Linked DNA regions of Homo sapiens. The protein of the gene in region 1 purifies or fractionates together with the protein of each later gene. This does not show direct contact. Each region holds a gene or a part of one and is shown on either strand. Other genes may lie near its edges.

The links. Proteins that work in one complex are often made in the same cells at the same time.
Region 2: the proteins of MYH7B (region 1) and COPS7B purify together in Homo sapiens (affinity purification with mass spectrometry; one large-scale study listed by BioGRID and IntAct). This does not show direct contact.

Annotation. Positions count from the first base shown.
Region 1 is NC_000020.11:34,979,017-34,984,083, forward strand, and holds part of MYH7B (myosin-7B), read left to right. Parts: intron 1-373; coding exon 374-480; intron 481-644; coding exon 645-788; intron 789-1,561; coding exon 1,562-1,718; coding exon of another isoform or gene 1,719-1,779; intron 1,780-2,016; coding exon 2,017-2,044; intron 2,045-3,442; coding exon 3,443-3,539; intron 3,540-4,302; exon of another isoform or gene 4,303-5,067.
Region 2 is NC_000002.12:231,788,506-231,793,173, reverse strand, and holds part of COPS7B (COP9 signalosome complex subunit 7b), read right to left. Parts: intron 4,620-4,668; 5' UTR 4,604-4,619; coding exon 4,442-4,603; intron 4,436-4,441; exon of another isoform or gene 2,001-4,435; intron 1,442-2,000; coding exon 1,366-1,441; intron 1-1,365. UniProt on the Homo sapiens protein: Component of the COP9 signalosome complex (CSN), a complex involved in various cellular and developmental processes.

The DNA.
Region 1 (5,067 bases):
TCATATGCCTGATATTGAGGGGCTGCTCTGTATGGGACCTAAGGAGATCTCCATAACATTTTGCATGTGAGGGAACTGGCCCAGAGAGAATCAGGGATTTTCCTGAGGTCAGAGGGCAAATATGGCGGAAGCAGGAATTGGAACCCAACCATTAACCCAGACTCATCCTCCAATAAGGGGATCTCTAGGGACCCTCCCAGCTCCGCCCTTCCTGAGCCTGGGTTTGGAGGGTTCTTCACTGGAACTCCTGGGTCCTGGCAGAGGGGCTTTGGGGAGGGTCACAGCTGTATGGATACCATGGCTTGGGAACTCCAGCTAGAACCTGGAGGTGCCTCAGCCCCTCTCTGAGTCCAGAGCTCTCTCTGCAACCCAGGGAAGAAGCGAGTCTGGGTGCCTGATGAACAGGACGCCTACGTGGAGGCCGAGGTCAAGTCGGAGGCTACCGGGGGCAGAGTCACCGTGGAGACCAAAGACCAGAAGGTTCCGTTCCCCCTTTCCTGAGATTAGCCTCTCTGTCCCTAGGCCTCCTGGCCAACAGGATCTGCCCTCTGGTTGAAGGGGGTCTGGGTATGTGGGTGGGGGTGACAGGTGAGGTCGGTCGGTTCCTCCCGGTCCCCCGGCCCCTGACACGATCTCCCTGGTAGGTGCTGATGGTGCGTGAAGCCGAGCTGCAGCCCATGAACCCGCCTCGCTTCGACTTACTGGAGGACATGGCCATGATGACGCACCTGAACGAGGCCTCTGTGCTGCACAACCTGCGCCAGCGCTATGCCCGCTGGATGATCTATGTGAGCCCCAGGCCCGGGCCATGGGCGGGGTGGGGCTTGTATGTGGGGCGGGGCTAGAGATGAGGTGCTGGGGGCGGGCCCATAGCGGTGGGGCGGGGCTGTGAGCGGTGGATCGGGGCTGTGAATGATAGAGCGGGTCCATAGCGGGGGTGGGGCTGTGAGCGATGAGGCGGGGCTCTGAGCAGTGGGGGCGGGGCTGGAGGTTGGGCCTTGGGACCTTAGGGGAGCAGCTGTAGCAGTGCGGGGCGGGTCTAGAACTCACCTGCGGACTATGGAGGCCGTGCGTGTGGGCTGGGGCAGGGCTGTGAGCACAAGTCAGGGGTGAGGCCAGGACGGCCACAGAGGGTGTGGTGTGGCAAGTCAAGTAGCTCCTTGAGGAATATCGCAGGGTTCTTCTGAAGACTGGGGCCTGGGGCCTGGGGATGGGAACTTGCGTATCCCTCCCAAAACCCTACCTATGGGGGGAGAATGTGGTGGCCCATGCCTGTAATCCCAGCACTTTGGGAGGGCAAGGCGGGCGGATCACCTGACGTCAGAAGTTCGAGACCAGCCTGGCCAACATGGTGAAACCCCGTCTGTACTAAAAATACAAAAATTAGCCGGTCGTGGTGGCACGCGCTTGTAGTCCTAGCTACCCTGGGAGGCTGAGGCAGGACCCAGGAGGCGGAGGTTGCGGTGAGCCGAGATCATGCCGTTGTACTCCAGCCTGGGAGACAGAGCAAGACTCCATCTCAAAAACAACAACATAAACCCTACCTATACTCTCTCTTCAGACCTACTCAGGCCTCTTCTGTGTCACCATCAACCCCTACAAATGGCTCCCAGTCTATACGGCCTCCGTAGTGGCTGCTTACAAGGGAAAGCGCCGCTCAGATTCCCCGCCCCATATATATGCGGTGGCGGACAACGCCTACAACGACATGCTGCGCAGTAAGGGCCGCCTGGACTCCTCCCCAACCGCAGACCCCGACCTCGGTCCCGGGAGGCCTCTGTAAGGGACCCCCTTCCCCCACTGGCACTGCCCCCCTTTTGACGCTGCTGGACATGGTCGCCCAGCCGTTCTGTCCCTCCGCATGGGAGCTGACCTCCACTAGGGACAGCCCCACCTGCTCCTTCCCATTCCTGGCTCTGGGTGGTGGGGTCTGCCCCAGATGGATACCCAGGGTGTTCCACCTGTGGCTGGCCCCACACCTTGGCTGACTTCTCTATCCCCTTCCCTTTCCTCCAGACCGAGACAACCAGTCCATGCTGATCACGTGAGTGTGGGGCTCTGGGGGTGGGGTGGAAAATGCTGGCCATCTGGCAGAAAGAGGGCGGTACCACAGTCATTTCCCAGGATTGAATCCAAAGTGCTTAGGCCAGGACTTTTACCACCTGGAGCTAGTGTCCCAGCTGAAGCTAAATTAGGCCTGAGCACTTTCCCTGCCCCCATTCTGAACAGATGTGTTCTTGATGGGGGATAGGGAGGGGACACCCACAAACGGAGTGACCACCAGCCCCACACCTCCTCTCCCCGGGGCCTGGAATCTCCCACCTTGATCCTCTGGGGTTCTAATTCTGGCTCAGGGGCAGCGGAAAGATTCCTCTGCTTTTCCTCCTTTTTACCATCTACTTATGTCTGAATCTTACCTCTGATCTTTCCATTGCCTCTGTGGGAAAATGGTAGAATAATTCTTACATGCCAGGCTCATGTCCAGTCAGGCCAATATGGACAATGTTTAGTGTGAGTGTGCATGCGCGTATGCAGTTAAGAGCAAGTGCCTTGGCCGGGCACAGTGGCTCATGCCCGTAATTTCTGCACTTTGGGAGGCTGAGGTGGGTGGATCACTTGACGTCAGGAGTTCGAGACCAGCCTGGCCAACATGGTGAAACCCCATCTCTACTAAAAATACAAAAAATTAGCTGGGCGTGGTGGCAGGTGCCTGTAATCCCAGCTACTCAGGAGGCTGAGGCAGGAGAATTGCTTGAACCCAGGAGGCGGAGGTTGCCGTGAGCCAAGATCACGCCACTGCACTCCAGCCTGGGCCACAGAATGAGACTCCATCTCACGAAAAAAAAAAAAAAAAAAAAAAAAGCAAGTACCTTTAACCCAGACGGGCCCGGCTGAGTGTGGTGGCTCACACCTGTAATCCCAGCACTTGGGGAGGCTGAGGCAGGAGGATTGCCTGAGGCCAGGGGTTTGAGACCAGCCTGAGCAACATAGCGAGACCCCATCTTTACCAAAAAAAAAAAATTGAAAAGTTAAATAAAAAATCCTACCTACCACACAAAGTTATGAGTCAGTGAGTTGATATATGTGCCTGGCACACAGCAGGGACAGCCACAGAACTCCTGAGGCCCAGTTCCTTGTTCCTAAAATGGGGGTGATAATGGAGCCTGCCTTCCAGGGTTTTCTGAGCTGTAACTGAGCCAATGGAGTAAAGTGCCGGGCACTGAGTTAGTCCGTAGTGGACAATGGCATCATCGTGTGTTGTCATCTCACAGGGATGGTCTACACTGGCTTGCTTTGTACACCTCTGAGGGTTGATCCATCCTTGGGGGTTTCAAGCTGGGGGGAAGGAGAGGTGGAGGGCTCTGCTTGAGGGGTGAGGCATTGGGGGTGGGGGAGAATTAGGCCAGATGGGCATTGGTGACTCATGTTTGTGTCGTCCAAGCGGAGAGTCGGGGGCCGGTAAGACGGTTAACACCAAGCGGGTCATTCAGTACTTTGCCATCGTCGCTGCCCTGGGAGACGGGCCGGGCAAGAAGGCCGTAAGACTTGCCCACTCGGGCATGCTCCCCGTTGCTTCTCGCTGTTTTTCTTTTCTTTCTTCCTCTCTTTTTTTTTTTTCCCCCTTTTTAAAAATTTTACTCCCCAGAACCCTGAGCCCTGCCTGAGCCTCCCACCCTGGTGGGGGACTCTGGCCTGAGCAAGGCTTGACCACAAAGGCTGTGGCCACCTGACGCGCCTGCCTTCGCCTTCCCATTGGTAAACATGGAGGGGTGGGGCCACGTTGCCGTTTCTAAATTTGTGTAATTTTTATCTTCCATTGTGACCTTCATATATTGAAAGAGTTTACTAGATGGGCTGCTTTTACTAAGCGTTGTTGTCTTGGTTTCCCTGACAGTTACCTGCTGCTGACACATTAGACACAGAGGTTGGCTGGCATGCAGGGCACTGGGCATTCCCAGCAGCCGGGGTTGGCAGGGCAATTTTGTGCCTTGTGATTTCTGTACAGTTTTTGGAAATTTCTGAAACAATGGGGCCAAGTTTTTTTGTTTTTGTTTTTAAGGCATAACATTTCATCCCTAGCCTTGGGGCCAGTTGTTCAGAGCCCTGTGGCTACCCCTAGATGGGCTGCCTTTTTCCAGAAGCCCGAGGCCTCCCTCCCCACCCAGTCCCTGCTCCTGGTCCTGTTAAGCCTTGCTTTATTCTGGGTGTTTTTCTTGTTTTTCCCCTGTTTTCTTTCTTTCTTTCTTTTCTCTTTCTTTTTTCTTTCTTTTCTTTTCTTTTCTTTTTTTTTTTTTTTTTTTGCCTTTTCCTTTTTACCCATTTGATTGTCTTGATTTTTGATTTTCATTTCAGTTTTGTTTTGTTTTGTTTTTGCTGTTGACTTTTTGGTCCTTTTTCCTCCTTCCCTTTCCTGCCCTGTCTTCCAAATCCCTAAAAAGGTCTCTGGGGACGTAACAGAAAGTTGGGTGGGTCAAGTGACAGGAAGAGATGTCAGGGAGAGGCCAGAGCTGGCAGGGACACAGCTGGAAGGGCAGAGGAGCACCTGGGCAGAAAGGAGCTGGGACAGTGGAGCCCAGGGGAGAGGGTCGGGCAAGGGAGGGGTGGGAGAGGCTGCCCGCAGGAGCCATGGCTGCAGGAACTTAAAAGATTGATCAGCTCCCCTTACCTTGGCCCCAAATTTGGCCAAACGGGCTAGAGAGAGCCCTGCACAAAAGCACTGGATGGGAGTGTATTGGGGGGTTCCACCTCCCCTGCCCAATGTCCCTGTGGGTATTTTAACTCTTGGGCTCCCTGGAGGTGAATGAATGACCACAAAGTCCGTGGTGGTATATCTGTTCCCTCCAGAATCCATTCCTTCCCTTCTCTCCCTTTCTTCCTTGGCTCCCAGCATCCGGAGTAGGGAAGAGAAGGAAAGGAAAAGGAAGGGAAAGTGAGGATGAGGCTAGGATGGGGAGAAGGAGGATCTGCTCAATTCACTTAGTCCCCCTGGGTGACACACAGGACCGCTGTGGCGTCCAGGCGGCAGGATGCTGGGCACCTGCCCTGCCGCTCCTGACTTGCTGTGTG
Region 2 (4,668 bases), on another chromosome or scaffold:
AATAATGGGCTTGTATTGTTACTCCCACTTTACAGACGAGGAAATTGAGCTGCATAAGGTTACTTCATTTGTCAACGAACACACAACTAGTAGAAGTGGAGCCAGACTGGCTACAGGCAGTCTGCTAACAGAGTCTGTGCAATGCTGCCTCTTTAGTAAGCAAGGACAGAAAAACAGAACACATTCCCTGGAACAAAGGGAAGGTCAGAAAAAAATGTGGTGTACCAGGAACTGGCAAACTGTCCAGTCTGACAGCAGCACAAAGTAGAAGTGACCAGGGAGAAAGAAGAAGTCAGGGATATCGCAGCGAAGGCCCTGAGTATCAGGCTACAGTCATACCATTAAAAAAGGGTAGGAAAGCCAGAAAAAAATGCTTTGGGTAGAAGGTAAGTTAGTGTTTGGACATACAAATACCTCAACCTAATACTTCAGATTATAATTTAAAATGACCCAAATGCCCTGCAACAGAAAATGAGCTAAGTAGATTATGAAATATTAAAAATATTAAAAAGACTTAAAATATGGATAAATGTTTGTAAGTGGGAAGAAACAAGCAAGACATAAAACTGTATACATAGTTGTACCTATGTAATACAAAACACAAACATAAGGGGCACAAAAAAGTCCAGCATCCAAATGTCTGAGCAACATATGAGTGACATTTATTTATTTATTTGTTTGTTTGACAGAGTCTCGCTCTGTTGCCCAGGCTGGAGTACAGCGGTGCAATCTCAGCTTACTACAGTCTCTATCTCCCAGGTTCAAGCAATTCTGCTGCCTCAGCCTCCGGAGTGGCTGGGATTACAGGCGCCCACCACCACGCCGAGCTAATTTTTGTATTTTTAGTAGAGACAGGGTTTCACCATGTTGGCCAGGCTGGTGTAAAACTCCTCACCTCAAGTGATCTGCCTGCCTCGGCCTCCCAAAGTGCTGGGATTACAGGCATGAGCCACCGCGCCCAGCCTATGAGTGACTTTTAAAAAGTCTATTTTCCAAATTTTCTTCAATATGCTGGTATTATTTTGATAATATTTAAAATGTTGAAACATTCTACAGGTGGGTATTCTGCACTTCACAGCACTCCAAGAGCCCTACAAACACCAGTCCTCAAGAATCTCATCTGGAAAACAAACAAGGGCTACATTTGTGGATGAGCACACACAGGCCCCATTTGACCCACTAGAATATAAAAGGTGAGAAGGAACATTCCCTTTGTGAGGTCACCCACCGGGCACAGCAAAATGGGAGGCAGCCAGGTCAAGAAGTCTCCCCACTACCCCATGCTTTATATCTCAAACCTTGATGGTCTTCCAAACTGAGCAACATAATTAACACAAGTCTTTTGAAGGATCTTCACCAACTCACCTATGTAATCTGGGTATGTCCCATAGGCAAACAGGTTCAACAACTGCAAATAAGCAGCATTAGCTCCTTCCGCAAGCTGAAGAGGAAAAAAAAAGTTCACCACAGACCAAACTGTCTACCAATCACTGTAGTGTTCAAACAGAGGACGGGTGAGCATGTGTCAAAGATGCCATGGCTGTTTATTCTGTACTATTTGATTACTTGGCCCCTGGGGTCTCTACCAACTCTGGTTCTTCGGGAAAAAATAAACAAGATTATTAAAGCCCCAAATTTAATTTCTCTCTCTCAGGAATGTTTTACTTTCTATACAGCATGCCCAACGAACTGCTTTTCTCTCACACACACATACAAAGCATTAAGCATTGGAAGGAGTTCAAATCTTCTCAAGATTCTGTTTGCATTAAAACAAAGACTGGAGCAGCCCTATCTACATACCAGCTTGGTAGGTATGGCATGAGCCACCACCAACCCAAAGTGAACAAAGCTCAGGGTTGGTTCCAAGTTTCAGGACTACACGTGGACTATGAACCCTGGGAGAGACCAGCACATCATAAGGTATGACAGAAAGCCAGGCTGGGACAGAAAACCAGGGTATCAGTCTGCCCCAAATCAAAATGTTCATTAAAATTACTTACTCTTCACTGATGCTGATGGCAAAAAGCCATGTGTAGAAGAAAAACGAAAGAGCCACTGTTCTGCCTGGAACTTCTCTGCTGTCAATTACGTTAACTGGTTGTTGTTGTTGTTGTTGTTGTTTAAATCACAAACGTGGGCCGGGCGCGGTGGCTCACGCCTGTAATCCCAGCACTTTGGGAGGCCGAGGCGGGTGGATCATGAGGTCAGGAGATCGAGACCATCCTGGCTAACAAGGTGAAACCCCGTCTCTACTAAAAATACAAAAAATTAGCCGGGCGCGGTGGCGGGCGCCTGTAGTCCCAGCTACTTGGGAGGCTGAGGCAGGAGAATGGCGTGAACCCGGGAAGCGGAGCTTGCAGTGAGCCGAGATTGCGCCACTGCAGTCCGCAGTCCGGCCTGGGCGACAGAGCGAGACTCCGTCTCAAAAAAAAAAAAAAAAAATCACAAACGTGCTCCTGTTACCCTTCCAACTTACCAAGCCCAGTAAACTCTAAACAGGAATAGCAAGTGGTAGTCTACAGACAGCAATAGCGATACTACTCAATTTTAGCCATTAAAAAAAATAAAGCTTCCAAGAAATGCATCTATAATTTCAGATCACTGAAAGGCAACCAGCTTATTCTCAGCTCACATATGGAAAAACGCAATGTATGGGGAGATAAAGGTGGTCTGCTAAGCACCCTATGGAGAACTCCAGCACCATAATACCTCAGGCTACTTTCTCAGGTTACCACAAACCTCCTGAAGTCCCTGAATCAGAAGGGGAAGAAACCTGGTAAAGACCATCCAATCTAGCCCCCCTTTTCAGAAACATAATTAACAAAACTAGCCGGAAAAGAGCATTTTCTCCAGAGCAGATACTCCAACACTTCTCCCACTGGCCTAAATCAATAAGGTCTTTCTGACTTTACTTTCCATCCATCTCCTCTTAGCCAATCTTCCACAGTTACAAAACAACTACTTGGCATATTCATGCAGGCTGTTCATGAACCTGAAGGAACATATTACCCCTTGGTCATCTCTTGTGTTGAAAAATGAACTCAGTTTTCTGAAATTTTCTTCATAAAACTCATTTTCCACTTCTGGTAAATTAAATTTTTATTGAAAGCCTACTGTGTGTCAGGCTACGTATTCAGCTCTAAAGAAACAATGGTGAGCACTACAGACCTCCTCACAGAGTTTATAGTTCGGCAAGCAAGGCTGACATTAAATAAAAATTTACAGTGAAAAAGTAAAAGTGGCTCTTCTCATCTCTGAACATCACAGGTAGAGGAGACATAATTGGGCACCTGAAATGGCTGGACTGTAGGGAACTGCTCCAGTTTCCCCATCAAGAGGAATAGGCAGACACACAGCACCGAATCCAATAAACTGAAGGCCGGCAACTCCTTTGGTTACAACTAACTGATTCACTGAAACTCCTGTTAAAACTGACTGTGGGTGTGGAGCCAACAGCAAAGGTGTTGTGGTGGTCATGAAGGTGATAAACTGCCCAACAAAAGCAAACCACCTCCTATATGCAAATCGCCACCACCAAGAACTCCGGGGCCACTCTCAACAGCATCCAGCACATGCTCCACAAGAAGTACCATCACCCAGATCTATGCATGGCAGCTTCCACAGAGCCAGCACCAGTCTGCATAGCCAGAAGCCTGTGAGGATGAAGAGGAAGGGGACCTGCCCCACCAATCCGCCAAAAGCTCCTGAGCACCAGCCTCCACCCCACAAAACAATAAAGATGCTTACAGACTTTTCTCAATAAGTGAATAAATATAAATAAATAAAAATGTTCAAATTGGAAAGTAGAGGTTGAGAAGTATAGATTGCTTTACATCTCTTTGTTCCTTCTGTTCAATGGATCTTCTCATTTTTGAGGCACAATGACCAAAACTGGATATCCAAGGTTTTAATAACAAGCAAGCAAACAAGTAAAATGAACTATGTCCTAGCTTTTCATGTCATATCTAACACATCTAACACATTTAGCACAACACTGCCCTTTTCCTCAAGAACAATACACTCCTATTCATGTCCATCTTATGTTCAATAGCAGTATGTTTCTGCTGTGTGTCCCTGACCAATCTTCCTTATCGATATTGCACTGGAGGTTTCTGGTCCTTAAGAATGCATGAATCTACTCCTATTAAACAGCCCATGCTTACAGCACTACTTTTCTAATTTATCAGGATCAATTTGACTTTTTTACTATCTTTTAGGTTATTATTAGCAACAATCTAATTTTACCCAAGGTAAGATAAAAATACTGGATAAAAGGAGCCAAGGATATTCTCTCAATCTCTCCCTCTGCCCCACCAATTCCCATCTGTCTCACAATAGGGTACCTCACAGGTTCACAATACTTCAGCACTGAAATTCTTTGGAAACCTGGAGAATTACAGAGTCTTAGAATAAAGAGAAATTGTTTGCAAACCGTTCTTACCTCCTGCACGTTGGCCAGCTCCAGAAGTTCTCCAAAGACATACACTCCGGGAGCCTCTAAGACCTGGCTTATGAGAGCAGTGAGGGCTGAGCCACTGGTACCTTTGGCTAGTAAAATAAACTGCTCCAGGAGATTACTTGAGGGTTTCTGTTCCCCTGCCATTCTCTGGCCTTGAAATCTGTCCAAAAGAAAATTGTGTCAGTCATTCTTCCTTCTCCTTTGCAAAG